2 linked regions of the Homo sapiens genome follow. The protein of the gene in region 2 interacts with the protein of the main gene of each other region in a pairwise test. Each region holds a gene or a part of one and is shown on either strand. Other genes may lie near its edges.

What was found. Proteins that work in one complex are often made in the same cells at the same time.
Region 1: the proteins of KRTAP1-5 (region 2) and DMRT3 interact in binary tests that used the Homo sapiens proteins (3 or more experiments, as listed by UniProt).

Annotation. Positions count from the first base shown.
Region 1 is NC_000009.12:986,655-989,443, reverse strand, and holds part of DMRT3 (doublesex- and mab-3-related transcription factor 3), read right to left. Parts: intron 1-2,789. UniProt on the Homo sapiens protein: Probable transcription factor that plays a role in configuring the spinal circuits controlling stride in vertebrates.
Region 2 is NC_000017.11:41,025,526-41,028,552, forward strand, and holds KRTAP1-5 (keratin-associated protein 1-5), read right to left. Parts: upstream 1,684-3,027; 5' UTR 1,631-1,683; coding exon 1,106-1,630; 3' UTR 501-1,105; downstream 1-500. UniProt on the Homo sapiens protein: In the hair cortex, hair keratin intermediate filaments are embedded in an interfilamentous matrix, consisting of hair keratin-associated proteins (KRTAP), which are essential for the formation of a rigid and resistant hair shaft through their extensive disulfide bond cross-linking with abundant cysteine residues of hair keratins.

The DNA.
Region 1 (2,789 bases), on a different chromosome or scaffold from region 2:
ATCCATTGAAATCTTTCATAAGAAGCCACTTGAGGCATTGGCAAACTTGGTTGCCAATAACTTGTACTAGAAAGCAAACGAAACCAGCTATGAATTCCGGATGGCAGGATAAGTTGCTGGAGAGGAAAAAAGGAAGTGGCTAGAAAGGGTTTGTTAAATTGCACGGGGGCATTATTATCCATCAATGAAACAACGCATCACACTCCACCGCCACGGGTGGCACGAGGCAGATACCTGTGCATGAACTGTTTTGCTGGTACAGTTCATGGAAAGGACTTGAAGATACCTTTTTTTAAAGCCAGTGAAATTTGAAGATACCTTTTTATATTATATGAAAAGAAGAAGGAGGGAAAAAAAGGCTTCCCAAATAAAGCAGAGACTTGCGATAAAGTAAACCAGTTGCAAATTTAACATCTTGACCTAAGAACATTTTTACTTAACAGCTGGTAATATTGCAGGGCTAAGCACACAGAAAAGAGTAAGTCAGAGTGGTTTGCTTTGCAGTAGTAAATTCCAACAGGACTTTATAATAAAGAAACATATTTTTTAGTAGCAAGCTATTTGCAAATAGAGTTTTGTCCTTTTTTGAAACACGCGCTGGCTGTGGCTACTCAAAGCCAGGGTAGCTGATCGAAAGATGAAAATTCCTAATGACCCAGTTGTTGAGTTGTAAACAATTGCTTTGCCTGTGTTTTCTGCTGCCCTGCCTGAATAGCTTCATTGTTGCCTTCTCTGTGGGCACACCTGATTATATACAGATAGCCAGCCGGTGAAATTTCATCAAAGCACCCTCTAGAAACAATCTTCTCCTACACTTGTCATTTTAAAAGCCTTAAGGGCCTACTTATGAACATTCTTCTAATACAGGTGTATCTTAAGTGTAACCAAAAAACAAAACTTTGTGAAATTTCATCAAAGCACCTTCTAGAAACCATCTTCTCCTACACTTGTTATTTATTTTAAAAGCCTTAAAGGCCTACTTAGAAACATTCTTCTAATACAGGATGTATCTCAGATGTAACCAAAAACCAAAACTTTGGCCTTTAACAAAGCAATAAATATGTGGCAAACATAAGTAAATACACTTTAAAACACTCTTCAATTACCTCAGTGCAAGTGTCAACATACATCTGATAGGAATTCATACTTATCCCAAATTTGCATTTTAATTAAACTGCTTCTTTTTTAATATAAAATATAAGGTTTCCAATGAGAGGTTCATTTGCGTCACATACATATGAAGCCATCTTCACTTTATATAATGACTCTATAGAAAGACTCTACTGTAGAATGACTCTATTTTTGTAAGAGAAATTTGACATATTCTCTCCTACAACTTCTTAGGATGGGGGACACAGCTTTTACCTCTTGAGTTAATGTGGTATTTGAACTCATGTCCTTGATTCAAAAGAGAAAAACAGCAACAAAAAGGCTTCTATAGATTTACTTTATAATCAGCTAGATCTATTTAAATGTTCCTGACTCATGACCCATACATACTTCTTGGCTGTTACTCTATTATTAAACATTTGAAAATTATTAAACACTTGAAAAGTGATAGCATATTAATATACTATCACTTTTAGAAATTGGAAAAACAAGTCAAATACTCTCCCCATGTAAATATGGACATAAAGTACTTCTTTAAAATACTATGTACTTCTAAACAGTTTCCTTATTTTTTAATTTTAGCGTAATTATCAGCACCAAGTATTTATATTTCTGCACGATACTGGGAGAAACAGAATAAAGGATGAAAAACACCAAGAAGTGTAAGACCCACACCTAGCTTATGGACCTTATCTTCTAGCTGGGGAAATAAGACACACATGCAGGAGAAGAAGCAAACAGGGCCTGGCAGCATTTGCTAAGCCTCAAATATGACACACATTGTATACCAATGTTCATGGCAGCAGCATTCACAATAGCCAAAAGGTGAAAGCAACCCAAATGTCCATCAGTGCATGAATGTATAAAACGTGGTGTACACACACACACACACACACACACACACACACACACACACACACAGTGGGATATTATTCAGCCTTAAAAAGGAATGGAATTCCAATACATGCTATAACATGGATGAACCTTGAGAACATTAGGCTAAGTGAAATAAGCCAGACACAAAAGGACAAATACTGTATGACTCTACTTATATTCGATACCAAGAATAGGGAAATTCAGAGAGAAAGTAGTGTGGTGGTTGTCAGGGGCTGGAGGAAAAGGGAATGGGGAGTTATTGTTTCATGGGTATGGAGTTTCCGTCTGGAATGATGAAAAGGTTCTGAAGATGGATGGTGGTGATGGTTGCACAACATTTTGAATAAATGCCACTGAATTGTGCCCCTAAAAATGGTTAAAATTGTAAACTTTATGTTATATATACTTTACCACAATAAAAAAAGAAAAATATATGCCACACAGTGTCATAGTAATATAGAGAATGAAGAGATTTTTTTAAGCAAGAGAAACAACTAGTCCTTCTTGGGAATAAAGCGTACATAGGCACAGCTGGAAAGCTCAAAGCTCAACTTTTTTTTTTTTTTTGAGACAGAGTCTCACTCTGTCACCCAGGCTGGAGTGCAGTGGCATGGTCTCGGCTCACTGGAAACTCTGCCTCCTGGGTTCAAGTGATTCTCCCGCGTCAGCCTCCCGAATAGCTGGGACTACAGGTGTGTGCCACCACACCCAGCTAATTTTTGTATTTGTAGTAGAGACAGGGTTTCACTATGTTGGCCAGGCTCCTCTCGAACTCCTGACCTCATGATCCACCCGCCTCAGCC
Region 2 (3,027 bases):
GGCCAATGATCCTCAATAAAAGAAAAGCTCCCACATTTGCTTTCGACTTGGAAATATGTGTCTTTTTACCATTACTTAACTTTTTAATGCACTTTATGTCTTCTTTGGTGTCATATATAGGAAATTGCCATTTTGAGAGCTTGCTGCAGTTTATTGCATAGTGTAATGGAGTGCAGTAGCATGATCTTAGCTCACTGAAACCTCTGCCTCCTGGGTTCAAGCGATTCTCCTTCCTCAGCCTCCCAAGTAGCTGGGACTACAGGTGTGCACTACCACGCCCAGCTAATTTTTTTTTTTTTTTTTTGTATTTTTAGTAGAGACAGGGTTTCACCATGTTGCCCAGGCTGGTCTCAAACTCGTGAGCTCAGGTAATCCACTCACCTCAGCCTCCCAAAATGCTAGGATTACAGGTGTGAACCACTGCTCTTGGCCTCAAGTAGACATTCTTGAATTATAAGCAGTTAAACCAGGTGATGTACAAGTGAAAACAAAGACAATGGTTTCTTTGCCTAGTATATAATATTTATTAAGAAATGACAGAAGACATTGTATCACAGATATAACTGAAATATCCAGCAGGCAAGATCATTATGATCCAAAAACCAAGGGATGGATCAGATGTTAAAATGTGGAAAGTCCAGCCTACTTCTTAGAAGCTGAATGTTGGGTGATGAGCTTCCATTCTCTCTGGTGACTTGAGGAATGTCACTTGGCTATAATTTGGTGTCTTTGATGTTGCAAAAAATTTTAGGTAAACAAGATAAAATAGATTATAAAGCATGGAAACATTAGACTTGTGGATAGTTCTCATGGATAAATTCCACAACATGTCAGTAATTTTTAATCCTGCAGAAATATCAGAAATAGTATATCCCAAGCAAATTGATGATCAGCAGGTGGCTTTGTAGCATTTCTGTGTCCCCAGTGAAGGGTCAAGGTATTCATTGTAGAATGGAATCAGATAGAATTGTGAGCTCATATACTTAGTAGTCTCCATCACAAGCAATGCAAAGTCTGAGAACTTGTTAGTGGTCCAGAGGTGGTCAAGGGATGAACAGTTCAGAGACACTGTGACCTAGGCAATTGAAAATAAGCAAACTGGCTTTCAGCAAGTGGGCTCACAGCAGCAGACTGGGCGGCAGCAGGACTGTCCACAGTAGGACGGGCGGCAGCAGGAGGCCTGGGCATGGTGCAGTTGGCAGCAGGATGGGGGCGTGCAGCTCACCACACAGCAGGGGGGTAGGTAGGTGCCCTCCACACGACTGTCTGGGCGGCACCACCTGATACGGGTGCTCACAGCTCCACTGCTGCCCTCCTGGCCATAGCTGATGCCACCACCAATGCCACAGCCAGTTCCGCAGGAGCTGATCTGGCAGCAGCTTGGCTGGCAGCAGCTGGTCTCACAGCAGCTTGGCTGGCAGCAGCTGGTCTCACAGCAGCTTGGCTGGCAGCAACTGGAGCTGCAGGTCCCACTGGTTGAGAAGCTGGGAAATCCGCAGAAGCTAGTCTGGCAGCTGCGTGGCTGGCAGCAGCTGGTCTCACAGCAGCTTGGCTGGCAGCAGCTGGAGCCACAGGTCCCACTGATGGAGAAGCTGGGATATCCACAGAAGCTGGTCTGGCAGCAGGTCATGGTGTCAGAAGTTGGGTTAAGAGTTAGGTTGCTTGGAGGAGTTTCTGAGGTTTGGTGGTGACTTCCACGTTGGTCCTTTTATATATCTGAACCAGCTGCTGTTTACAAAATTGTTAACATATTTTCTTTGTTTTTGTTTAAATTTGTTACTCCGTGGATCTCTGATTGGCTTATGTTGAAATACTTGTGACACATTATGAGCAATAGTTTAGAAATTACTGTTTTATAGTTTCTTCTGGACTCCTCATATCAGTCCTTTGCTCTTTGGAATATGTTTGTGGTTTCCCATGTTCAAAGAGTACTTCCATTTTAGTCCAAATGAATGCTCTCATTTTACATAATAGTTATTCCACGTGACAATCTATCCATACCTCTAAGGCTAAGAGTAATAATTGTGCTGTTATATTTAACTATTATTTTTTCCTCCTAGATATATAGACTAAATTTTATTGAATTTTGGATATCTGGATATCTACTGAACTGAAGGAATACCTTTGGTCATACATAATTCGCAGATTTCACCTTTTTTTGTTCCAATGTCTTATTGAATTACCGATTATAGTTCCTTTGATTTCAACCAATTTGGAATGTGTGACTATTATTCCTGTTCCAGACCAGAAATCTGTTCTTGGGAACCAAACTGACATAGTATTTAGGAAGGTATCCAGCAGAGTCCTTAGTTTGTGGTAGAACCTTAATAAATGTTTACTGAATCTGATTCAATAAATGTTTATTGAATAGGTGGAGTAAAAGGCTTGATTCATGGATATCAATACCACTCAAACATGATTAAAGAGAACTTTCAAGCTGTAGTACTTCTCATGAAAGAGTCTTGTTATTTGCTGTAAAGAGACTAGGAAATGTGTTTTTTGGTTTATTTTATTTTATTTTTTGGATTTAGTAGTGGAACCGGGCTCGGGAAAAAATATCTAGGAGTTATGACACTTTGAAAAATGTACTGCCATCTACTTTATTCCTCTTGGAAATTGCATAATTTTGTGTGTAATCCATCATTGCTACCAATTAAATATAGAGGTAAGTTCTGGGAGCTTGTAAATAATGTGGAAAACGTGTTTCTTTCTATATTTGCATCCTATTGTATTTTGTGTATTACACTCTAATGCCTAATGAAGAATTTAAAAATTAAATGGTAAAATATGTTTTGTTTTGTTCTAGGTTGTGTTAATTTTTTTTTTTGAGACAGAGTCTTGCTTGTTGCCCAGGCTGGAGTGCAGTGGCGTGATCTTGGCTCACTGCAAGCTCTGCCTCCCAGGTTCACGCCATACTCCTGCCTCAGCCTCCCAAGTAGCTGGGACTGCAGGCACCCACGACCACACCTGACTAATTTTTTTTTTGTATTTTTAGTAAAGACTGGGTTTCACCATATTAGTCAGGAT